7 linked regions of the Homo sapiens genome follow. The protein of the gene in region 7 interacts with the protein of the main gene of each other region in a biochemical or structural test. Each region holds a gene or a part of one and is shown on either strand. Other genes may lie near its edges.

What was found.
Region 1: the proteins of ARHGEF11 (region 7) and SH2D3C interact in a test that uses a peptide from one of them, tested with the Homo sapiens proteins (one large-scale study listed by IntAct).
Region 2: the proteins of ARHGEF11 (region 7) and GRIP1 interact in a test that uses a peptide from one of them, tested with the Homo sapiens proteins (one large-scale study listed by IntAct).
Region 3: the proteins of ARHGEF11 (region 7) and HTR2A interact in a test that uses a peptide from one of them, tested with the Homo sapiens proteins (one large-scale study listed by IntAct).
Region 4: the proteins of ARHGEF11 (region 7) and SMCHD1 interact in a test that uses a peptide from one of them, tested with the Homo sapiens proteins (one large-scale study listed by IntAct).
Region 5: the proteins of ARHGEF11 (region 7) and FKBP4 interact in a test that uses a peptide from one of them, tested with the Homo sapiens proteins (one large-scale study listed by IntAct).
Region 6: the proteins of ARHGEF11 (region 7) and FAT3 interact in a test that uses a peptide from one of them, tested with the Homo sapiens proteins (one large-scale study listed by IntAct).

The regions. Positions count from the first base shown.
Region 1 is NC_000009.12:127,751,167-127,754,666, forward strand, and holds part of SH2D3C (SH2 domain-containing protein 3C), read right to left. Parts: intron 135-3,500; coding exon 6-134; intron 1-5. UniProt on the Homo sapiens protein: Acts as an adapter protein that mediates cell signaling pathways involved in cellular functions such as cell adhesion and migration, tissue organization, and the regulation of the immune response.
Region 2 is NC_000012.12:66,462,577-66,466,076, reverse strand, and holds part of GRIP1 (glutamate receptor-interacting protein 1), read left to right. Parts: intron 1-654; coding exon 655-802; intron 803-2,983; coding exon 2,984-3,153; intron 3,154-3,500. UniProt on the Homo sapiens protein: May play a role as a localized scaffold for the assembly of a multiprotein signaling complex and as mediator of the trafficking of its binding partners at specific subcellular location in neurons.
Region 3 is NC_000013.11:46,834,554-46,838,053, forward strand, and holds part of HTR2A (5-hydroxytryptamine receptor 2A), read right to left. Parts: intron 1,087-3,500; coding exon 284-1,086; 3' UTR 1-283. UniProt on the Homo sapiens protein: G-protein coupled receptor for 5-hydroxytryptamine (serotonin).
Region 4 is NC_000018.10:2,700,726-2,704,225, reverse strand, and holds part of SMCHD1 (structural maintenance of chromosomes flexible hinge domain-containing protein 1), read right to left. Parts: intron 3,492-3,500; coding exon 3,308-3,491; intron 535-3,307; coding exon 340-534; intron 1-339. UniProt on the Homo sapiens protein: Non-canonical member of the structural maintenance of chromosomes (SMC) protein family that plays a key role in epigenetic silencing by regulating chromatin architecture.
Region 5 is NC_000012.12:2,797,970-2,801,469, forward strand, and holds part of FKBP4 (peptidyl-prolyl cis-trans isomerase FKBP4), read left to right. Parts: intron 1-736; coding exon 737-857; intron 858-1,118; coding exon 1,119-1,275; intron 1,276-1,880; coding exon 1,881-1,971; intron 1,972-2,069; coding exon 2,070-2,153; intron 2,154-2,422; coding exon 2,423-2,608; intron 2,609-3,147; coding exon 3,148-3,387; intron 3,388-3,500. UniProt on the Homo sapiens protein: Immunophilin protein with PPIase and co-chaperone activities. Component of steroid receptors heterocomplexes through interaction with heat-shock protein 90 (HSP90).
Region 6 is NC_000011.10:92,798,318-92,801,817, reverse strand, and holds part of FAT3 (protocadherin Fat 3 isoform 1 precursor), read right to left. Parts: coding exon 1-3,500.
Region 7 is NC_000001.11:156,934,340-156,937,742, forward strand, and holds the end of ARHGEF11 (rho guanine nucleotide exchange factor 11), read right to left. Parts: intron 3,158-3,403; coding exon 2,910-3,157; intron 2,667-2,909; coding exon 2,477-2,666; intron 1,906-2,476; exon of another isoform or gene 1,792-1,905; intron 1,720-1,791; coding exon 1,661-1,719; 3' UTR 501-1,660; downstream 1-500. UniProt on the Homo sapiens protein: May play a role in the regulation of RhoA GTPase by guanine nucleotide-binding alpha-12 (GNA12) and alpha-13 (GNA13). Acts as guanine nucleotide exchange factor (GEF) for RhoA GTPase and may act as GTPase-activating protein (GAP) for GNA12 and GNA13.

The sequences.
Region 1 (3,500 bases), on a different chromosome or scaffold from region 7:
CTCACCTCTCGGGGGATGCGGCCATGGTACCAGGCATGGCTGCGGAGATCCGTGCTGCTGAGTTTGAGCTCCTCCTCCAATTCCTTGTGGAGTTTCTCTGGCGATGAGTCCAGGATGTACTTCTCCTTGGAGAACTGGGTAGAAAACAGCAAGAGTTGGCATCCAACTTAAAGTCTCCTTCTTCTTTCCCTCCCAACTTCATTCTACCATGGATGAACTCCTCCTATCCTGGGACTCTGGGAACACTAAGGCACAGGTGCCAGACCCTTTCCCATGGGTCCCAGAAAGAGTAAAGAAATCTCAATTCCTTCCACAAAACAATGCCAGCTGCATTCCAGGCCCTGTGCTATATGCCAGGGGTGGATGCAGTGATATATAAACCAAGCCCGGCCCTCAAGGCAGTGCCTAGTCTGAGGAGAGGCAAAAGCAACAGGAGCCTCTGAGTAGAGTGCGGTCAGCACCACAGCGCTGGACAGCGGCAAAGAGCCGGGTGGCTTTTACAAGCGGGATTAAGCCTGGGCACGACAGAGGGGTCTCGGAAGCCTTCCTGGAGGAGATGGCAGTAAGAAAACACTCATTATATACCAAGGGCACCAAACTGTTCTTGAAGTGTTGGAGGGGGATTTCTACAGGTGAATCTTGGAGGTAAGGCAGCAGGTAACTGCAGGAAAAGCTATGAACAAAACCACAGAACTGGTTGGACAAGGATACGTTCTGGGATGGTGCATTCTACAATGCAAGGGTGGGGAAGGGACTATAAACAGGGACACGGGGACCCCAAACAGACATCTGCATTGCCCCTTACAATTTCCAAGGCCATTTCTCCCTTGAAATCCTCAGCAATCCTCACCCAGATGGGGAGACCATGGCCCAGCAGGGAAGCCCAAGGCCACTGAGGGAGATAATGTCCAGTACTCCACCCTCCCACCTGGCCCAGAAACTCCTGGTTTCTTGATTACTGTGGCCTGAAGTTGGAGGCTGATGGATCCCAGGGGCCCTAAGGGAAGAGGAAAGGAAGCCCTTAATGCCAGGTGTACGCCCACCAGAGCCCAGCCCAATCCTGGCTGTGCCTTGTGAGCTCTCTGGGCCTCAATTTCTTCCTCATTAAAATGGGTACAGTGACAGAACCTGCCTCACCTCACTGCGAAGATGAAAAGAGACAGCACTCCAGAGTACTACTAGCACATGGACATCCTCATCACTGCGAGGACATGGGATGGTTCTTCCTCTCCTTCCCCCACCTCCAGGCCCCAAAGATGGCTACTCCAAGACAGACAGACCCCAGCGCTGGCCAGAAGGCAGGACAGATGAGGGAGGGCAGTAAAGGGCCTTCATCCCAGGTGAGTCTCTCCCTGGGGCCCCTCGCTCCTGAGAGTCCGAAGGTCCTCCAGTCCACTCCCTGCCTCCTCAGACTATCCACAGATCTCGCCTCCTAATTCTGTGGCTACATCCCTCACCCCTCTGCTCCCATACTGCCTGGGTTTAGCCTAGTCTGCATTGCTCCCAAGACACCATGATTCCCAGTGTCAGAGATATCTAGAATCTCTGATTCCATTCAACATTGACTAGGTCCCTATCCTGGTCCTGTGCCAGGGCTGAGGACCCAAGGTGGCCTCTGCCCTGGGGGAGGCCTTGCAGACACTGACAATCAATTCCAGGTTTCCTGAATGTCCCGAGATGCACAGAGATGGTGCACCACCAAACTAGTCAGGGGGCAGAGTCAGGAATCACTTCCCTGAAAAGGTGGTGTTTCTGCTGAGGTCTGAAGGACTGGGTGAGCCAAGCAAAAGCACCAGGGTGGAGAGGGCAGGTGGACAGGTGGACAGGGAAGAGCTTCTGGGGAGAGAGCGGCAAAGTCAGGGTCCTACGGGCAGAGCCAAGGGGAGGGAGGGGAGATGAATAAGAAGCTTCCAAGGGGCTGTGGGGGCAGGGGCAGGTGTGGCACGGCTGCCTCAGGGAGCTGGGGTTTATCTGGAGGCCACAGCAGAGCCATGGAGGGGTTTGGAAGTGTTGGGGCAGGTTTAGTCCACTTATGGAGAGCAGCCTAGGGTTTTCCAGGCAGTGGCAGGGCAGATAAGGCGTGGGCAGAAGGAGTGGGGGAAAGGGAGTTTAGATGGCCATTGATTCATGTGGGGGAGCAGGGCGGAGGGGTCAGAGAGGACTCCTGGCCGAGATCCTAGAAGGATGATTGGGACATGCTCTGAGTGGGCAAGGCTGGGGCAGGAGCAGCTTGGTGGTGGACCCATGAAAATTTGGACCTTGAGGAGCCTGCAGGGCTCTGGGGACAGATGGTGGGAGTGGGCGGTTTGCACAGGTGCTCAGGAGAAAGGCGGGGCCTGGGAGTGGGAATTCTGCACATCCTCCGGCCGTGGTAGAAACCGATGCCCCCGAAGGGCAGAGAGGCCCAGGGCTGGGCTAGGATCTGGGCCTTCTCAGACACCTACACTTCTCCAAGGGGTCCCCTACTTCTGGGGGTCCCTGGTCTCTCTCCCTCTCACTCTGCGGTGCTCACACCAGGCTAGTCCTCTTTCCTCATATCACACCAAACCCTGGAAAGGGGAGAGTGGGCGTCACAGGGAAAAAGGGAACCAAGACCTCAGCCTTCTGGCGTCCTCCTTGACAAAGGGCATGCGATTGAGACCTTCCCCCAGTTCCACAGCTGGAGCTAGAGGGACGTGGGCAAAGGAGGGAGGAGGCTGGATGTTGAAGAACCGCCCCAAGGCTGCCACTGTGTGACCTTGAGCCAGTCACTTCCCCTCTCTGGGCCTGGGCAGCCTCATCCGTTAAAGGGGCTGGGAGACTGGGCTCCCCTTTTCCAGCTTAATCACTGGTCACGGAGAGTTTGGGGGGACCAACTTGGTCCTCCCACACACCTGAGGGTGAGGAATCCTAGGGTCCCTGTGCCTTGATCTCACCTCGACCTGGGAGCCCCCAGTTCCCTAGAGTTGGGGGTGCTGGGGTGCGAATGCAGCATCCCTGCGCTCGGCGCCCTGCTATTGGCCAGAGATGATCTCACCGCCTCCCGGCCTGCGCGCGCCTGATTGGCCGGTGCGGGGATGCTGCGCTCCGCCGCCGGCGGGGCAGTCCTTCAGGCGGGCTCCGCGAGCGTGTGTGAGCCTGGGGGAGCGAAGAGCCGACGCGCCTGGCATCTCCCAGGGGGCTCAGGGGGCAGGAGCGCGGAGACCCCCGGACAGGGTCTTAACCCCTTCCCGCCAGCCCGAGCCCAGCATCCCCTCCAGCTCCCCTCGGCGTCCCAACCCCAAGCAAAGCCATCCCCAAAGGATGCTCCGCAGAGAGGCGGGGTCCGGGTCCTCCCCTCCACCCCCTTCCGTTTAACCCTCTCACCGCCGCGGCGCCGTCCTGCACTGCCCGGCCAGCTGGGCTGGGAGAGACCCGCGCCCCAGGCATGTCCAAGCCCACCTAGAGGGCGGGAGGGTGGCGGGCGCTCTGGCCCCAACCCTGGCATCCGAAGCATCCCCCGCGTTTCCTGCTCCTCACTC
Region 2 (3,500 bases), on a different chromosome or scaffold from region 7:
TATATGAAGTTAAGCTTTACAAATTCAACTTAGTGTAACATTCCTACTACTTGGCTAGAGACATCATCCATCCATCCATTCTTCTGATTATCTATCTACCCATCCATTCATCCTCCCATCCCTCTTGTCATTCTTTTATTTATCCACCCATCCATCCTTCTTTTCTTTCTTCCTCCCTTCCTCCCTTCCTTTCTTTCTTCTTTCCTTCCTTTCTTTTTTATATCCATCCTTTCATCCATTCATTCATCCATCCGTCTATTTATTCCTGGTAGGTGCTAAGATATTTATTGAATTAAGTAATTAATTTAAAAAACCTTTACTGAGAGACCTAGTATATGCTCGGCATTGTGCCAAGCACTGTGGAGGGGATAAAGATACATAAGATATTATCCCAAGTGACATGAAGCTTAAAATCTCATTGAAGAGATGAACATTACACATACATTAACACAATACAAGCTGAATGGAACAGGTGTGTTAAGAGGTGCCCTATGAATTTATTATTGGCTGTGGGGATATTATATGGAGGGAAATCTAAGTTTCAGTGATAAAATTAACAGGCTAACACCAAACTGAATATTCTTCATCTCTTTCTTTTGTCTCTTTGCTTATTTGTTTTATTTGTTTTGTTTTCTAAAATTTGTTCTTTGACAGACTCTGTGGCAACAGCATCCGGGCCACTACTAGTCGAAGTTGCCAAAACTCCTGGTGCCAGCCTTGGGGTTGCCCTAACTACCTCGATGTGCTGTAACAAACAAGTCATTGTCATAGACAAAATCAAATCTGCAAGTATTGCAGACAGGTAAGTATTGTAGAAAGTGCCTACTTTTCCGCCAGGCGCAGTGGCTCACGCCTGTAATCCCAACACTTTGGGAGGCCGAGGCGGGTGAATCACCTGAGGTCAGGAGTTCGAGACCAGCTTGGCCAACATGGTGAAACCCCATCTCTACTAAAAATACAAGAAATTAGCCAGTCATGGTGGCAGGTGCCTGTAATCCCAGCTACTCGGGAGGCTGAGGCATGAGAATCACTTAAACTCGCGAGGCAGAGGTTGCAGTGAGCTGAACCATTGCACTCCAGCCTGGGCAACAAGAGTGAAACTCCATCTCAAAAAAAAAAAAAGAAAGAAAGAAAGAAAGAAAGTGCCCCTTTACAAAATTGCATGTGTGCAATTTTAAATATATATACATACATATGTACACACACTTGTAATACACATATACACATGCATATACACATACACACACACACACACACAGTTCTCTTGCCAGTTTATACAGGTTTCACACACAGAAGCAAGTTACTGTTACAGGGCTTAAAAATTCACCTATGTGTCAGCCACCCCATGATGTCACTTCACGTCATCCAGATGTTTGGTGTGGCCTTTAGCAATAGAAAAAAAAATCAAGCAACTAAGCAAGTTTTCTTACTGTGTCCTAGGGCACTAGCCTGTTCTTAATGTAGGGTAGCTGAGTAGATCTTTCTTAAACCCCATGCAGAGCAGTGATGGGTTTTCCTGAATTGTTGACAATTAAATCCTGCTACCATAAAATCTGATTTCTTTGTTTCTTAAATAAATAAAACAATACTTTTTAAAATATTTTTTACAATACTTTTAAAAAGTCCTATACTCTCATAGCATGTTAATCTTAGGATTTTACAACCTTCGAGGGTGTCTTAAAACATCATTCGCTTCAATGCCACAATAAAAATGAAATTTCATGTTTCTAATTAATATTTTATACTCGTAAGGTAAAAGGGGAAGATAAAAAAAGACTACCTTTCCATCTAATTAATTATTTTACAGCTCCTGGTAAGAAAAACCTCATCTCCCATAGCTAAAGCACTCCAAGTGCAAAAAATGTGGAATTATGTTTTTAGTTGGAAGATATGACTTGAAATGCTTTTGTCTTGAGACGTAGACTATTCACACTGGGAATTTATAGATATACTGCACCTGAATGACCAGTCTCCCCTGTATGTTTCCAGCCCTCTTCTCCACGTGCCCCTCAACCTGCCTTTCCACCTCCAGCCATGGTGCAGTGAACTGCAGCAACCCCCCGTAGTGGTCAGTCTACATCTCCATTGTGGTCTTACCCAACATTCAGTCCTTATCAGTGACAGCCATTGATCCAGGGGTGTTGTGCAGTTCAATGGCACAGGATGCTTTAATTTTCTCCCTCTGTTTTTTCCCATTCCACAGGGGGTAACCAGTTTAAGGAGCTGTTCACTTGACTGGTATGTGGGGATGCTGACGACTGCGCTAGCTTTTCTTAACTCATCCAGTAGCCAGCTCTTGAGTTCAGCAAGATGTAGCAGCTAGCCCCTTCCCTGCCCCCATCTTTCCCCTTGACTCACCATGCAGGCCTGGTTTTATTACTCACTTGACTCCTGCATAATTTCTACCATTATCAAGAGCTTTTATACTAATACATGTTCAACTCCAGAATAACATAATAATAAAGAACTGGTGATCTTGGAGTTTGTGTGAGGATTCCAAGGAAGTATTACTGAAATCTCCCCAAGTTATTCTTCTTTACACATAAAATAGACCCTATTCCAATTCTGAGAGTCATGTTTGAGATTCTGAAGATTTACCCACTCATGTTTATAGATAGAAAAGCCTAGAACAAAAAAACACAGACAAAAGTCCAGGGGAAACATTTTCCTGTTTTTCCCTTTCCTCTTGCTCGCTTTCCCTCAACTTTCCACACAAGCACTCCAAAATAAGATTTTTTTTTTAAAGAAAGACAAGAGAAAACATTTCGTTGAATTTTTCTCTATTTTCCACAAGGTTTTACTTCCTTGTTCATATTCAAGGTACTTAAAATTTGGCAGATGGTGTTTCCTATAACACTCAAACTTTTCTTTTCTTTTATTTTAAGTAAATGAAAAACTGTGAAATTTTAACTATGAAGGACATGAAAGTCAGATTCCAAAGAGGAAGGCACTGCCTCTTACCGAGTATTTCTCCTTTCCGTAGATGTGGCGCATTGCATGTGGGAGATCACATCCTCTCCATCGATGGAACCAGCATGGAGTACTGTACACTTGCAGAAGCAACCCAGTTCCTGGCCAACACCACTGACCAGGTCAAGCTTGAGATCCTTCCCCATCATCAGACCCGGCTGGCCCTAAAGGGGCCCGACCATGGTGAGATGGTCCACCTGGATCAAGCTCTTTCTCTGGCCCTCACAGTGTTGCTCCCTCTAGCAGAGTTAGACAGCAGAAAGACACTGGGTCTCATTCTGCCTTTTTTTTTTTTTTTTTTTTTTGAGATGGAGTCTCACTCTGTCCCCCAGACTGGAATGCAGTAGCATGATCTCGGTTGACTCCAACCTCTGCCTCCTGGGTTCAAGCCATTCTCCTACCTCAGCCTCCCGAGTAGCTGGGATTACAGGTGACCGCCACCATGCCCAGCTAATTTTTGTATTTTTAATAGAGACAGGGTTTCACCATGTTGGTCAGACTCATCATTTCTTTTCAAAACAAGGTTATGT
Region 3 (3,500 bases), on a different chromosome or scaffold from region 7:
ATAATTATACAATAAAAGTGAATCATTTTAAAGACATATCATTTACAATGTTATAAATAAGTATCAGAAAGCTCACAGCTGAAATGCTGTCAGAACATTTTCCAAGCACACATTTTGTAGCATTGAACCCCGCTTTTCATTGACAGAATAAAATGAGGCATACAGATATGATCGTTGGTTCCACTAGACTTGTCTAATTTTTTCCAATCTCATATTTTTTTTTTTCCAGATAGGTGAAAACTTGCTCAGTGTGCCTTCCACAGTTGCCACGGCAACTAGCCTATCACACACAGCTCACCTTTTCATTCACTCCGTCGCTATTGTCTTTAGAAGCCTCTTCAGAATGCTGCTTTCCTAGAGCAACCATTGAGCAGTCATTATCTGTTGTCTTGGCATCTTGCTTTGAATTCTTTTTTTGTCCCATTTGAAGTTGGCTAGACTTGTAGGCCAAAGCCGGTATTGTGTTCACTAAAATTAACTGCAATGGTTTTTTGTTTTCCTTGTACTGACACTGAATATACCGTGAAAAGGCTGACCTATAGGTCTTGTTGAACAGTGTGTAGACTAGTGGGTTGACTGCTGAAGAGAGATAACCGATCCAAACAAACACATTGAGCAGGGCCCCAATGACATCCTCATTGCAGGACTCTTTGCAGATGACGGCCATGATGTTTGTGATGAAGAAAGGGCACCACATCACCACAAACAGGAAGAAGACGATGCCCAGCACCTTGCATGCCTTTTGCTCATTGCTGATGGACTGCATAGTCCTCCTGCCTGTGTAGGACCCTGGCTCCCTATGGATCGACCGCTGGAAGAGCTTTTCTGAAGACAAAGAACTCTGAGGGAGGAAGCTGAAAGAAGCTAATTTGGCCCGTGTGCCAAGATCACTTACACACAAAGTAGCTTCTTTCTGGAGTGACTTGATAGTTAGAAAGTAGGTGATCACCATGATGGTTAAGGGAATGAAAAATGACACAAAAGAGCCGATCAGGACAAAGTTATCATCGGCGAGTAAGCAACTCCCCTCCTTAAAGACCTTCGAATCGTCCTGTAGCCCAAAGACTGGTATTGGCATGGATATACCTGGAGTTGAACAGAAAATGAAACATGATTATTAAGGAATTAAGTATATGAAGGCAAGAGCATCATCACATAATATTGGCTATTGAAAAGATTTTATATCATCGTTTAAAAGCTTAACATACTTTGAGAATTTAAAATTCCTTTGGACTTACATATGTGTTTTGTAAGTATATATTATGTAGTTACTTGTATGTTATATTGCCCTATATAGCTAACCCTTATAAAGAAGTATAATAAATCTAGCTTTATTTTTTATGCCACATTTTTCTGATTATAATATTATACTTATTAATTGAAGAAACACACAGAGAGGCAAATAAACTAAAAATTGTCCAATAACGTCACCATCTAGAGATAGCCACAATTAACAACTGATGCTGTTCATTTTATTTATTTATATATTTATTTATTTTTGTCTATGAAAATCTAGAATATAGATTTGTTTCTTTTTTTGATGCTGTTCATTTTAGATACATTCACACACTTACCATGTGCACACATTTTAAAACAGAATTGAGGTTCTTTTTCACAAATAGTTCTGTATCTTTTTTAAAAAATCTAATAATATGTCACAAGCATGGCTTATATATAAAAATAACTATAAAATTTTAAATATAGTTTATTTTCTCTCTAGAAAATTTGGGAGGTACAAAAATGTAACAATGAATAAAGAAAAATAATATGTATTCTCACCAGTCAGGGGCAACCATAATTTACATTTGCATCATTTCTTCTTCCACTTACATGTACATATAAAAGCAAATGTGTATATGCAGTACTTTACATGCAGTACTTTGTACCTTATATGTTTTAGATCTTCCTATTCCATTTAACATTATAAATCATGATAATTGCACATAAAATATTTTTGAGAAATACAATTTTCTAATATTAATTTAAAATAACCAATTTTAATTCTTTTTAAAAAAGCTTTTATTATGGGACATTTTTAACATACACACAACTAACAAACCAAAAACCAAACCCAGTACAGTGAACTCGTCACCCAGCTTCAAAGATTATCAGCTCAAGCCCAATCTTGTTTCATCCATATGTCCTCTGGCTGCCATCCCTCCCATGTTATTATGAAGCAAATCCTAGACATCATGTCATTCAATCTGAAAATATTTATTACGTAGATCTAAAAGCCATGCACTCTTAGACAAACCTAATATTTTCACAATACCATTCTCACTCCTAAATAGAAGTTTAATATTTCCTTAATATTAAATGTAGAGTTAGTGTTCAAATTTCCAATTGTCCCATAAAGGTTGTTCTATGTTTTTAGTAGTAGAGCATTCATAAGGATGGATTGCAAAAAACAAGACAGCCATAGACTTTTTATTGACAAATATAAAAAGTAGGTATAGGATGAGATAATACAGGGGAACATGGGCCTATATGGTTCATTGCTCCATCACCCAGATTTGGGGGATCTGTAAGGCTCCCTCAGGTACAGGGATTAGGCAGAGGAGGAAGCAGAAGTGAATAAAGGCAACCCCTGGCCTCTAATCATGCTATGTGCCCCACTTGATGATAGGACCTTTTTAAAGGAAGATTCAACTGGCCATGTTGTGCAGTTTCACCACCCAGCCCCCACCATGGACAACCTCTCTGCTCCTGGGGAAATAGGTGTATCTTTCTCTACTGGCCTGGGATGGTTGGTCCAAGGCAATCATGAGATGGCTTATTCTCTCTGCCATAAAGGTAGAATCAGGATGATAAAAAAGAGAGGAAACATGAATCAAGTACTCTGTATAACTTAGTTTAAGATTGTTTCTTTCATGAAATGGTAGATATTGCAGGGACAGCCTGGGAGAAAAAGTCAGAAAAATAGTTCCCTTCTAACTCCTGCCCATATTATCAGCACACTCAGAATTGTAGAACAAAGAGTGTTGTGGTTACTGCTTCTGACCGTCTTTAGAGTCTAATACATGGTCTCACACCAGCCAAGAACACCGGTTTATTCCAGAATTGGGGGCCACTGCCTCACTCTTGCCATCCATCTGGAAAAAGGTTTTTGGAGAATCTCTAATCTAACTTCTGCATACTCAGAACAGAGTTCCGCTTCATCCAAGCACAGGCATGACTGTCCTAACCTCATGTCACCTCACATTGGCCATCGTGGCCAGGAAAGAACGCTGAGTTGATGTAATATTCAACACAAATCTTTCTTAGTGACATTTGCCATTATCTTCAAAGACTTAATTAACAATATTTGTCACTTGCCTATGCAAGCCCATCCAGGATTCTTGGAAGGTGGAGATAAATGACATCAGAGCTGTTCATAAGGACACTTATTGTGGCTAATGACTCTTCATTTCCTCCATCCCTCTCTGTTCCTGGCCCATTGTTTGCAACATTCAAGAAGAGATTGATGAGCTGTGCCTCCAAGGAGAACATCCTCTGAGACC
Region 4 (3,500 bases), on a different chromosome or scaffold from region 7:
TTTAAAATCAGTTTGTCCTTTTCATTCTTACCTAGCTCCTGAGGAGCCAATATTTGCATTATTTGTTGTTACTGTTGTTAAATTTTAATACATCTAATTTAGTCTCAACTTCTACTAAAAATTGAATCTAAAAATAAGTTAAATTTCCTTAGAGATGATGGAAGACACTGATGTCAAACAGGCCTGTGAAGAGTCTGAATAAATGTTCTTCATGAAATGTGAGAATGGGAAAAAAAGAAATTTTTAAAAATAGCTTATTTTCTATACATGTGATTCTGCATATGTGTTTTAAATTAAATTAAAAATTATAAGAAAAAAGTGACAATAAGTTAAACCTACCAGCTGTCCTGCTTTGTATATCTTTCCATCCCATTCTATTGCTGCATATGTTGCCCAGGGACCTTGCTTTTTAGAAGGAAGATCAGGACGTGTAATTACTCCCTTAAAAAGTGTAAATTTTATTTGTTTATCATACTTCTCATGACAGTCCTTCAGCCACAAAGCAAATTCTCTGTCAATTTTCATTCGCTGTTCCTGTAGAATTTTAAAATGTTTTATGAAATATAGCTACTAGCAAACAAATATAACCATAAACATTTGTCATTCATTTTATTTTTTTCCTTTCATATACTCCAATTCAGAAAACCTAATAAAAAATTAAATATTCTGCTGGATCCTTCCTCTGTACACATTTAGGATATTTCAAACAAATGCATTACCAAAGAAGAAAAATTTGATATTATTCTTAGAACCAAGGTATCCCTGGTCAATATCAACAATAAAACCTTCCTTTCCGCCTTTAATTCCTAGGATACACTAAAAACTGATGAACCCTTACTGCCTGGGAGGAGAACTAGCTAGCTCCACAAAAGGGATGAGTGGAGGCCTTCTAACTGTAAACCACATTCTCAATGGGACGATAAAAATCTCATTGTGTATCAAGTACTTTATAAACGTGAATACAATATACAAACAGATAGATGGTAAATCTGCAGTAGTAAAATTTCATTGGGGAAAACAATTGAGAAAAAGATGCCAAGAAAGACTCCTTATGAGGGTGATAACGAAAAAAGGTTGAGAAACACTGCTATGCAAAATGTACTTTTCTTTTTAATTTTCTCTTTTATATATAGAGCCTATCCAAAAAATAAACTCATAAAACTGAAGTGTTTTCTAATAATACTTAAGAAGATGTGTTTTTGCCAACCATTCTTCACCCTGTTGGGAGAGAATACAGAAATCTGTATTCAAGCATAAGGTGCTATACACTTGTTTGATGCCTGCCTCTAGGGCAATGAGGAGGTAAGACAATCTCCCCATTACATGCTTTCGCAGAGGACAGTCTGTAAAGTTACAGAACTCCATTCCTTCTTACGTACCTTATACCATAATATACCATTTCCAAAGGAAAGTAAGGCAAAATTAAAAATAATTTCAGCCTAAGTTTTTGATGCTTGCTGTCAAGAAGGATACTATCTTAGTTATTAATAAATTTGATTTTTTTAAAGTTATATGAATGAAAAAGGAAATATATATACATGGTAAAGACTCACAGGTCCAATATGGTATACAGTTTCTGGGAAATTGCTGCCACACTTACTCCTATAACTAGGTACCAACTCTTTCCCAAATCAGCAAATCATTGTTGTCAGTTTGCCAGCTGACATGGAGATTAAATTAGTAACTAGGAACCAGAAAGTCTGACAACCAAAATGTTAAACTACCCTTCTAAAACTCTCAGGATGGATTCACTATCAACCAAACAAATTACCAAATGCATTAATTCCAGACACTCAGTAACAGTCAAAGTACAATTCAGAAGGCATGTCAAGGTGACAGGTAACCTAGGGGAAAAGTATGCAGATATTCACTTTATAATATTCTTTCAACTTTTCTGTGTATTTGAACATTTCCTTCTTTTTTTTTTTTTTTTAAATACAGAAGGTGTCTCACTGTATTGCACACGCTGGTCTTGAACTCCTGGCCTCAAGCCATCCTCCTGCCTCAGCCTCTCAAGTAGCCAAGATTACAGGTGTGAACCATTATGCGCAGCTTGAATGTTTCAAAATTAGAAAATATATATTTTAAAAGTACAGTGTAACAAAGGAATAGAATTAACTTATTCTGGATAGCTTTTGAAAACACCCACTGCTCAATAAATGTTGGATAACTAACACCATATTATAAATGAATTCTAAGTGTATTATAAAGGAGTAGTAACTCATTTTGATAAGGTCTTTCTCGGTGTATAATTCTTAAAAGTGTCCTAATCTTCTATGATTCACAAGCTTTATAAGAGCAAAATTAATTTCAACATCTTACAGGACTGACTGACTACAAATACTATGTACTATGCACTGTATTTATTGCCCAGCAATAAATTGATAATAAAATCATCTATTTCTTGGCAATTCAACATTAAACTACTGAAAGAGTAGTATCAAAAGTCTCTGAGGTCTGTTCACAGAATACAAGTACACTAGTATACTAGTTTCACTCAACTTTGTAACAAATTTCAAAGTGAAATCATTCTTGTTGTATTAATCAATACATGTATTTTAATACTGATCAATCTCAAATCACCTTTTAGCTCAAAGTACTTCACAGTTTTACCCCATTTTTACCCTCAAGACTAGCTAAAAATTGCACAACTAGGTTATTAATATACAAATATAGCCCTTAAAGCAAATACAATTGTTCATACATGTTCTCATTAAGATGCTTCTGTGGCTTCTACTATGTCAAGGGCTAGATATTAAGATCTTGGCTGGGTGCGATGGCTCATGCCTGTAATCCCAACATTTTGGGAGACCAAGGCAAGTCGATCACCTGAGGTCAGGAGTTCGAGACCAGCCAGGCCAACATGGTGAAACCCCATCTCTACTAAAAATACAAAAATTAGCCAGGCGTGGTGGCACGCACCTGTAGTCCCAGTTATTTGGGAGGCTGAGGCGGGAGAATAGCTTGAACCTGGGAGGCAGAGGTTGCAGTGAGCTGAGATTGAGCCACTGCAATCCAGCCTGGGAAACAGAGTGAAACTCCTGTCTTAAAAAAAAAAAAACAAAAAAAACTAATGAAGATATGTAAATTCTATCCAAACCTAGTCTTTACTAGGTAGGTTTAGTCATTACTAAAAAATTAGCTTTAAATTTTTTAGTAATGTGAACACTTGACTGCTCATAAAAAAATTTATACATCATAGTCTTTTGATGCAAAATATCAATAAAAACCTACACTGCTAGTGTCTTCTTTTACTTAAAAATAAAACATTTGCAAATATTCACAACTTTATATTTAAAAATCATACCTGTCCATTTAAAATCCTTGTAAAAAGGGTGTTCTTATCTTTCAATTTTAGCTCAAGATCCATAAACGTCAATTTATTTGTGCTGACCTGGAATTTGTCATTAGTGAATAATGCACCAGATATCCTATTGTAGCATTCAATTGGTGCAAGCCCTCTCTTCTTAGGAGGAGTACACCAGTCAAAGCTTGAACAG
Region 5 (3,500 bases), on a different chromosome or scaffold from region 7:
TAGCCAAGGCTGAGGGTCTGGCCTTATGGGAGGAGAAATGCAGAGGGCTCTGCTGCTGCTAGTAATGGAAGTAATAGAAGCTTCGGGTGGGAAGAGGCAGGCACAAGCCCCTCTCCAGACTCAAAGCATGGTCAGGGTTAAGGCATCTTTATCTCCAGAGCGGTACCCAGAAGAATACTGAAAGGAGTCGGGATGTCAGAAACTATGTCCCGTTATAAATGGCAGTACAGAATATTGGTGCTCTAGAGACCAGAAGAGGGAGCAGTAGCTCCCCTGTGGGTCAAGGGCTGAGAAAAGGCTTCACTGAGGAGATAGAACTTGACATTGTTCAATCTGAAAATGGTTGAGCCAATCCGTGGGCCCTTGAATACTGAGAAACTGCTGAGAGATGTTGGGTAATCATTTCTAATACCTACCAGGTTGGGCTTATCAGGTAGTGTGAATTAGGATTATCTGGGACGCGTCCTGATATGTCCGTGTTAGTAGAGCAGGTAGCAAATAGATTGCTCTCCTCAGCTTAACTGAAATCTATGTAGTCTGCCCACCTCTACCAAAGTTGAGATTAGGGCAGCTCCCAAGAACTGAAAAAAAGTGCCACTCTACCCAACTCCTTGTGACTGCCCTTGTGGTCAGATCCGGCCTGGCAGTTAGTAGGGACTCTCTCGGATGAGAAAGATTGTGTTTCACTGCCCATGAGTTAGCATGGGAAGGAATTGTGTCACATCTTGTCCCACAGGTGGAGTTGTTTGAGTTTAAGGGAGAAGATCTGACGGAAGAGGAAGATGGCGGAATCATTCGCAGAATACAGACTCGCGGTGAAGGCTATGCTAAGCCCAATGAGGGTGCTATCGTGGAGGGTGAGACAGTACAGTCTGGGCTTTCAATTCTCATTCTGATATTTAGGCCTTGTGTGGCTTTGGGCAAGACACTTCCGTTCTCCGAGCCTATCTTCTTGTCCATAAAATGAGGGGTTGGACCATATTCTCTTCATATCACTCCAGATTTGAGAACACAGGAGAATCTTGGGATGATGGGGGTGATGCAGGGAGGCTGATGGCATCCTTCCTCAGTCACCTGCCCTCTTACAACTCTGGTACACTGCCTCTCTTTCATGCCAGTTGCACTGGAAGGGTACTACAAGGACAAGCTCTTTGACCAGCGGGAGCTCCGCTTTGAGATTGGCGAGGGGGAGAACCTGGATCTGCCTTATGGTCTGGAGAGGGCCATTCAGCGCATGGAGAAAGGAGAACATTCCATCGTGTACCTCAAGCCCAGGTGAGGGGTGGGCACTTCGTAGGGTAGGCAGGCAGGCAAACCAAGATCAAAGATATAAAATGAATTGTAGAACCAGCTGTTTGTATCCTTTTTAACTCTGGCCACACCAAACATACACCATTATGATATCCTCAGTGTACTTAGAAGTATGGCCCAATTGTCTACATCTCCTTGGATCTAAGCCCAGTCTTTTCAGTCATAGTTGCTACAGATTCTCTCCTCTGCCATCAAGATTTTCCTCTCCCATTAATTCATTTCAGTCATTACTGAAACAGCTACTACATGCCAGGCACTGCTGAAAATTCCTATAGGGCTTCAGAGACTAATAGAACATTGTTTCTGCCTTCTAATTCTAGCTCATTGTTTAGTGAGGTGCTATTTAAATTAGTAATCACACTGCTGCCTGGCTGTAAGTTATTAGAAGGGTATGAAGGATGCTGAGGGACCATCTGACAGTGTGAAGAGGCCAGGGAAGATTTGCCAAACATTTGAACCAAGTCTCAAGGGATGGGAAGGTACTTTCCAGGAAATGGACAGGAAGCCTTTTCAGCCTGGAGCAGGTTAAGTGTTGCCAAGATGATACATAGTGTTTTTCACCCCTCCAGCTATGCTTTTGGCAGTGTTGGGAAGGAAAAGTTCCAAATCCCACCAAATGCTGAGCTGAAATATGAATTACACCTCAAGAGTTTTGAAAAGGTAAGTTTGCTCAGGGTCTTCCCATCTAAAGTCAAGTTCCACCCTGTACGTGACTCTGGGGTAGCTGACAACTTTGTTTCTCTCCTGGGGTGTGGCAGGCCAAGGAGTCTTGGGAGATGAATTCAGAAGAGAAGCTGGAACAGAGCACCATAGTGAAAGAGCGGGGCACTGTGTACTTCAAGGTGAGCCAACAGTCATTGTCCTAAGGACACTCCCAGGAAGAGTTGCTCTGAGCCTCCCCTTCCCTTGGTGACTGAGATCATTTTCTGCCAAGAAGTGGACAGGTTGGCACCTGCCATCTTCACTTCATATATGTGAGCTTGCTGGCCTTGCCAGTGGGAAGGGTGGGAGCAGGAACCTCTTGTGGCCATGTGTCACTGATGTCTGCAGGGTATAAGAGCCTAGTACCACTGAAACTGTGCCAGGTGCCTGAGCCTCTCTCCCATTCCAGGAAGGTAAATACAAGCAAGCTTTACTACAGTATAAGAAGATCGTGTCTTGGCTGGAATATGAGTCTAGTTTTTCCAATGAGGAAGCACAGAAAGCACAGGCCCTTCGACTGGCCTCTCACCTCAACCTGGCCATGTGTCATCTGAAACTACAGGCCTTCTCTGCTGCCATTGAAAGCTGTAACAAGGTGAGGCCCCCTCAGAGGTCATGGAAGCAGCATTCACAGGCAGAGTTGGGTGAGCTGCCAGCATGTCTGAAACTTCCCCTTGGTGACTAGGGCAGGGATAGCAGGGTGGATCAGTGGGAGCTCTGAGGTTACAGACCAAAGGCACGGATGCAAGTATTCATAGCAAGAACCTTAGCTTTGGTGGGAAGCAGTTGGCAAGAAGGAGGAGGACACGGAATGGGAAGAATCACATAAAGAGTTTTCTTCCACCTTGGTTCTTAGCCTCTCCGCTTACCTACTTGCTTTATTCTAAAGTGAATGTTAATGTCTGAAGTCTTTATTTCATCCAAAGACCTGCTGTCTTCCCTCTCTGCCTGTTGGATTAAATGAGGTCCCTGGATTGTTCCATTTAATGCCTCAGGCCTTGTTCTTCCTGGGGTGCAGCCAGCCACTTGCATTCCTCCTCATCCTCCTGAGGGGTACCTTTGGAACCCAGTCTAGGCCAGATGAGCTACAAGCCCTGAGCTCCCACAATGTGGCTTCCTCTCTGCATTCTTTAGGCCCTAGAACTGGACAGCAACAACGAGAAGGGCCTCTTCCGCCGGGGAGAGGCCCACCTGGCCGTGAATGACTTTGAACTGGCACGGGCTGATTTCCAGAAGGTCCTGCAGCTCTACCCCAACAACAAAGCCGCCAAGACCCAGCTGGCTGTGTGCCAGCAGCGGATCCGAAGGCAGCTTGCCCGGGAGAAGAAGCTCTATGCCAATATGTTTGAGAGGCTGGCTGAGGAGGAGAACAAGGTGAGGATTGGGGTGGGGAACAGTTGGAATAGCATCCCTCCACTTAACCTGGCTACTGTGGGCTCTTTGTGCCTTTGGTTGTCTGTGCCAATCCCGGAAACCAGAAGTTGCCT
Region 6 (3,500 bases), on a different chromosome or scaffold from region 7:
TCCTTCACATTCCCTCGGTACACTTCCTGCGCGAAGACTGGTGCATTGTCATTTATATCTGTCACTCTGACAGAGACCAAGGCCGTGGAGGAAAGAGAGAATGCCTCTCCAAGGTCAGAGGCCACCACAGAGAAGGTGAATGTGGGGTCTGTCTCGTGATCTAGGTCCTTCAAGGTACTGATCCAGCCCGTGTTGCTGTCAATATTGAATGCTTCCATTACCTTTTCGGGCTGGGAATCCGAGTGGAGGGAGTAAGTGACTTGTCCATTGGCTCCCCAGTCCATATCAATAGCTCTCACTTGTGTGAGTTTGGTGCCAACAGGCATCCCTTCCATTATAATGGTGTCATAGCTTGAAGTTTCAAAGACTGGCTTGTTGTCATTCAAATCCAATACCTTGATATCTACATCCACAGTAAACACAATGTCTACTTTGTCCAGGGGTATAGTGGCTGCTACTTTAAAGTGGAAAGCTGGGCTGGTTTCACGGTCAAGGCGTTTGTCAAGCTTAATAGTGCCTGTTTCCTGTTCTATGACGAATATGCCCCCTTTGTTATTTTCTGGCCGTTCCCCATTAACTGTGCTGAACCAGACATTCTGACTGGGCAAAATCCTCAGGGTGTCCACTGTACTCCCAATGGCTGTATCTTCTGCAATGGTAAAGGAATACTGAGACTGGGTGAATGATGGCAAGAACGTTTCAGGGGGCAAGACGTGGATATAGACAGGAATGAGGGAGTGCTTTACTGGGATGCCCCCATCTACTGCTTTGACAAAGAACGAAAGCACTGTATTTTTCAGCTGGTTAAAATTACCCTTTGTGACCATCCAGCCATTGTCAGGATCGATTTCCAGGAGGTCGGCCACTGAAACAGAGGCCTCGCTATAGAGGGAATAAGTAATCCTTGAATTTGCTCCATCATCGGGATCTATGGCTTGAACTTGAGTGACCAAGTGGCCCCTTCCAACATCTGCCCTGACACTGGCTCTATATTCCACTGTCATGAACTGGGGAGCATTGTCATTTTCATCCACAACAATCACTCTCACAGTGCAGAAAGTTGTTCTCCCTCCACCATCAAGGGCCCTCACAAAAATACTAACATCCCCTTCTAGAGGGTTTTCCCGGTCTAGCCTTTCTGTGGTGATGACCTGCCCATTGCTGTCTATGAGGAATCGATCCTTGGCAAAGTCATTGATGATGGCATAGCTGATCTGCCCATAAGTCCCTGGATCACCATCTGTGGCTCGAACATGAATTACCTTTGTTCCTGCAGCCACGTTCTCTCTCACCTCAGCTACGTATGTGCTTTGTGAAAAGGCAGGGCTGTACAAGTTAGCCCCAAGTACCCTAATATGCACCTGTGCAGTGCTGGTGAACAACCCATCAGAGACAGACACATTGAGACTGTACAGAGGCTCCATCCGCTGCTTCCGATGGTTGGACAATGTGATAACTCCACTCTTGCTGTCCATCAGAAAGCTCGTCCGGTCATTCCCAGATAAAATGCTATATTCCAACCGGTCAAAATCAGAGCTGTCTGCATCAGAGGCTTGTACACAGGTTACAAAATGGCCCCGGGGGGCTAATTCACTCACATATGACTCATAAATGAGCTGATTAAAAACTGGAGGGTTGTCATTTACATCAGAGATGTAGATATGAACGAGAACCTCACTGCTCAGTGATGGGAAGCCACTATCTATTGATCTGACTTTCAAAGTGCAGTGTTGTACTAACTCATGGTCCAGCATTCGTGCTGTCAGGATTAAGCCACTTGAGCTATCTATGTGAAAATAATCTGTGCTATTGTAGGTATCCTGGACAATCTGATAATGTACCATTTTATTGTTTTCTGAGTCTGCATCAATAGAGACAACTTGTAAAACAGGTGTCCCAATAAGAGATGCTTCTGATAGTGTTGTATTGTATGTAGGCTGATCGAAAATAGGGGGGTTGTCATTTACATCATTAACTAGCAAGTCAACAGTGACTTCAGCCCTAGCACCAGTAAGGGCGTCGCTGGCTCTTATTGTCAGCTTGTAAGCAGATGTAACTTCATAATCCAAAGGGCTAACAACTTTCAGGACCCCAGTGTCAAAGTCAATGTTAAACTGTTTAAAAGGGTCCCCATCGATAATGATATATATGATGCCTTGGCCTTCTGGACTGGTGGCATTGATGCTTAGGATGGGTGTGTTCATTCTGATGTCTTCATTGACAGATGCTGTATAAAAGGGCTTATCAAACACAGGCATTGCTTTGTTGACAATAGTGATGGGAAGCTCCACAGATGTAGACAAAGAAGGTTTTCCGCCATCCTTGGCTAGGATGGTGACTCCATACTCAATGTTGGACAAGTCAGAGTTGAATGCTTCCTTTAAAATAACATTCCCTGAATTAGGGTTAATTTCAAAGTGGCCATAGTCATCCTGCAGGACATAGGTCACTTCTCCATTTGGACCTTTATCTTTGTCAATGGCTGTCACCTGATAAATCAGAGTCCCGGGTTCCGCATCCACTTGAACAGCAGCATAGTATGGGAGGCCCACAAAGACTGGAGAATTGTCATTTATGTCTTCAATGTTAACCCTGACCACCACTCTGGCCACACGCAGATGGTCCAGCTCACGGCTGGCTTCTACCACCAGCTCATATAACTCTTGTTCTTCACGGTCAAAGGGGACTCCAGTCGTCTGAATGACCCCTGAGGTAGATTTTATCTTGAACTTATTTCCTGGGTTTAAGATGCTGTATTTTAAGGGCTCATTAAGGCGATTTCCAACTGCATTGACAATAGCAACTTTGGTTATGTTAGTGTTGTTCTCTGAGATTGAGGTGGAATAGAAGCTTTGTGTAAAGTGGAGGCCGCTGTCCATGGCTTCTTTAACCATGATGGTGACCATGGAGGTACTGTAGAACTTTCCATCAGACACCTTAACTATCAGCATGTAGTGATCCTTGGAGAGGTTGTTGTTTTTTATGGTAAGTACTCCACTGTTTGAGTCAATTAAAAAATGATCCAAACTGCCTTCCATTAGGCTGTATGTCAGTTCAGGGGGTACCTCAGAGTCAGGATCTGTGGCACTAACTTTCAGAACCTCCACTCCAACATAGGTAGGTAGAAGTAAGATAGTCTCAAACACAGCCTGAGTAAAAACAGGTGGGTTATCATTCACATCTGTCACCTCAATGTTGACTTCAACGGGACTCTCTGCAGTCAGTTGGGGGCTACCACTGTCTCTCACATGCACATGAAAATGGAAATGGGCAATGGTTTCATGGTCCAGGTTGGCAATTGTTCTGATTGCACCTGTACTGGAGTCCACCGTGAAAAACTTTTTTGCTGTTGACTCCACAATCTGATACACAAGCAGAGCATTCCGGTTGCTGTCAGCATCTGTGGCTCGAATCACCAGTGGGCTGTTATCCAAGCTCCTGACAATGCTATTAATTGGGGCAGCCTCACTTAGGCTGCCTGAGTATTGAGAAAAGAGAAA
Region 7 (3,403 bases):
TGGTTACAGTCTTGGTGATGTGGCTGCGTCTGTGGGAGGATGTGGATGGATGATGACAGTGATGAACTGGCCAGGCCTGAGGCAACCCTCCCACTTAGATTTGGCTTTTAAAGTCTTCAAGCTCATTGAGGGCAGCTCATGAGACCTCTTGACTCTGGGTCCACTGCTCCTTTATATACACATATATGTGTATATATATGTGTGTGTGTGTGTATATCTATATATGTGTGTATATATATGTATCTATATATATATCTGTGTGTGTGTAACTGAGTTCAGTGTCTTGTCATGTTTTCTCCATGGGGGTTGTACAACTTAAGTTTGCCCAGTCCCTAGTTCAGTGAGTGCACAGCTGAAGCTCTGGGAGGGAACAGGCAAGATCTGGGTCTGGGGGTGAGAGGGCTCCCTCTGGTTCCCACTATCCAATCCTAACCAGTCTTACAGGGAACAAACACCGTACCTTTTATCACAGCGATTCCAAGAAACACACACACCACCACTGAAGGATATTTAACTTTTCTTAAAAAAAAAATCTTAACCATGAAAGGAAGAAAATAAAAGAGTATACATTATCTTAACAGCAGAACAGTCATTTCCATATCTATATTTTATATATTATATATATATTTATATATATATATATGTATATATACACCTAGCACAGTGTGTATATTCTATTCATCAGGGAGAGTTGGGTGAGGACGTGGTGATGGGGCCAATGCTGCGGTGGCCCCTTGGATGGTCCTGGGTGAATTCAGGGACTCGGCATTCAGACCCCTGTCCCCACCTCCTGGGGCCCAGTCCTCAGCTCCGTACCTGCTTCACTGGTTTTCTACAGGGACAGGGTGGGGAAGAGGGGGACATAGGTGGGGTAAGAAACCCCCATGATCCCCATCTTGTGAAGATGAGAAGTCCAGGGAGGGAGGGAGTAGCTTGGCAGCAAGCTGTGGAGGGCAGGCTCTGGAGCCAGGTGGGATGGGGAGCCAGAAGACCTTCCCACTCACAGGGACAGGAACACTCAGGCCTGGCTCCCGCTTTAGGCTCGATCCTGGAACTGGGTTGTTAACTAAGGAGATACAAGTGAAACCCCTCTTCCCTAAGCAGCTCCTTCCATAACTGCCTCCAGCACTTCAGGAACAGGAACAAAAAAGGTCAAAGTTATTTACAATAGCAAAGATGCACATACGATACATACATATTTATAGGAAACCAAAGTGACAAAGAGGGGAGGGGAGGCACCCACCTCTGCCTGGGGTCTTATGGAGAAAGAGGGGAGGAAGAAAGTGCATTTACACAGAAGCCTCCTCCTTTCACTTGCATGTCTGAGGGCAGCGCACATACAGGCGTGCGCGTGTACACACATATGTGGGGTGAGGGCAGACCATGGTGAGTGGGGGCCTTTCGGATGCAGTCAGCATGCTTAGGAGACATGAGGCCTTGGAGGGTTGGGCTAAGGGAGGGAAAAGACACTGAAACCTGACTCCGACTTGAGCAGACCAAGCAACATGCGGGTCTCCCCCCGGGCCTTGGCTGGATCCTAGTTTCCCTAACTGCCTCCTCCACAGGGAGGAGTGTTGGGATCCCCCCTACCCTGTGCCCCGGTCTCAGGCCAGTCCCTGAAGGAGGAGTGGGGACGCAGAGGATTTGGTGGTTTGTACGGTTATGGTCCTGGTGACGCGGCTGCGTCTGCTGTGCTGTCTTCCAGGGGGGCGTCAGAGCCTGTGGGAGGAGGATGAAGGTGAGGAACTGGCCAGCCTGAGGTGACCGCTTCCACATGTTTTGTCTAGAAAGTTCAGGCTCACGAGAACAGATCCTTCATCACCTTCCTTCTCCTCCAGAAACCCCAGTTTCTCGTAGGGCTTGAAAAGGGCTGTCTACTGAACTCCACTTTCATCAGCGCCTAAAGCCCTTAGGTCAGGTAGGTATGTGCCTTGTCTTCCTGAGTTATGACATAGCTGTGTCCCTGGCCCACCCAGTGTGGTTCTGAATCATTTAATCAGCACGAGTCTTAGGCCGACACCATGGTGTGCACCTGCAATCCCAGCTGCTTTGGAGGCTGAGGTGGGTGGATCACTTCGGCCCAGGAGTTTGAGACCAGCCTGGGCAACATAGCCAGGCCAGCCCTTGTCTCAAATAAATAGAAAAAAAAAAAAAAAAAATATATATATATATATATATATATATATAAAATTAAAAAAAGAACAAGTCTTAGAGGTGAGAACAGGCTCCTCCTGGTTTGTTACCTCCATAGCACAAGGAAAAAGAGGGCTCAGTGCTAAGCTCCCCATTTTGCCAGGGAGCTTCTGTGGGACTTCCCTAAAAAGATCCCTCTCTGAAGCTGAGAGAATGAACTCGTTTCACTCAAGGGGAAACCACTCTCAGAACCACCATCTCTCACTGCTTAGTGATGTGTCCTCACGAGTTGGCAGACTTCTCCCCCAATGGTAGGAACCGAGAGGGACCTGGCTTCACTCACCATCCTCAGGGCAGGGCCCCAGTTCATGGCTGTTCCTGGAGTCAGAAGCTAGGGGCTCCTTAGCGGGAGGTGAGAGGGAGCCATCTGTCCATCTAGCTGCTTCTGTGTGGAAACTGCCCACAGGCGTGGTGCCACCAGATGACTCTCCCCCAAGGGACTTGAGCAGCTCTCTGTGGGCCAGCTCCATATCCTGGAAGAGTCGGCGGGGGAATGTCTGCTCGAGTCCTTCTATTCCTAAGGCCCCTGGGGAAGGGGTCTGTGCTGGGCCTTGGGGAGGAGGGTGTGATTTAAGGGTGGCTGGGCGGGCTGGGGGAAGATCCCTGGGCCAGGACAGGATCTAGGGCTCCCGCGAAGACACACATCTCACTCATGGGGAATGGTTTTGGGGTGATGGACTGAAGGCCTGCAGGGACCCAAGCCCTGCTTCCCTCACCTTGAGCCTGTTGAGCTTGAGAGTGAGCTGCTCAATGGTATGGAAGATCATGCCCACGTCCCTGAGGGCCAGGCTTGGAGGAGAGCGGCTGGGGCGTCTTGGATCATCGTTGCCTCCCTGCAGCTGAGGCTGAGGCTCTGTCTGCCCTGCAGGGAGGCTGTCAGGCTGAGGGGGGCTCATGGGTGCCTCTGAGTGGTCGGTGCTTGAGTCCGGGGGTCCTGATGGCATGCTGACATAAAAGCAGTTCCCTGTCCCCACAGTAAGAGAATGAGATCAGGAGGCAAACAGAGAAGTCGAAGCTATCCTCCCGTTCCTGTGGGATTCCCCAGCCACCTGACAGAGCAGGCCAGGCAGTCCTCTCCAGACAAACTCAGAGAACGTGGGCCTTGCTCACTGTCTGCCAGCCCCCTAAAAGCCCTGCTCCCGAGACCTTCTAGATGACACTTGCTCAGTCTGGCCCCAAGCTGGGGGAGATGCTGAGCGATGAACTCAAG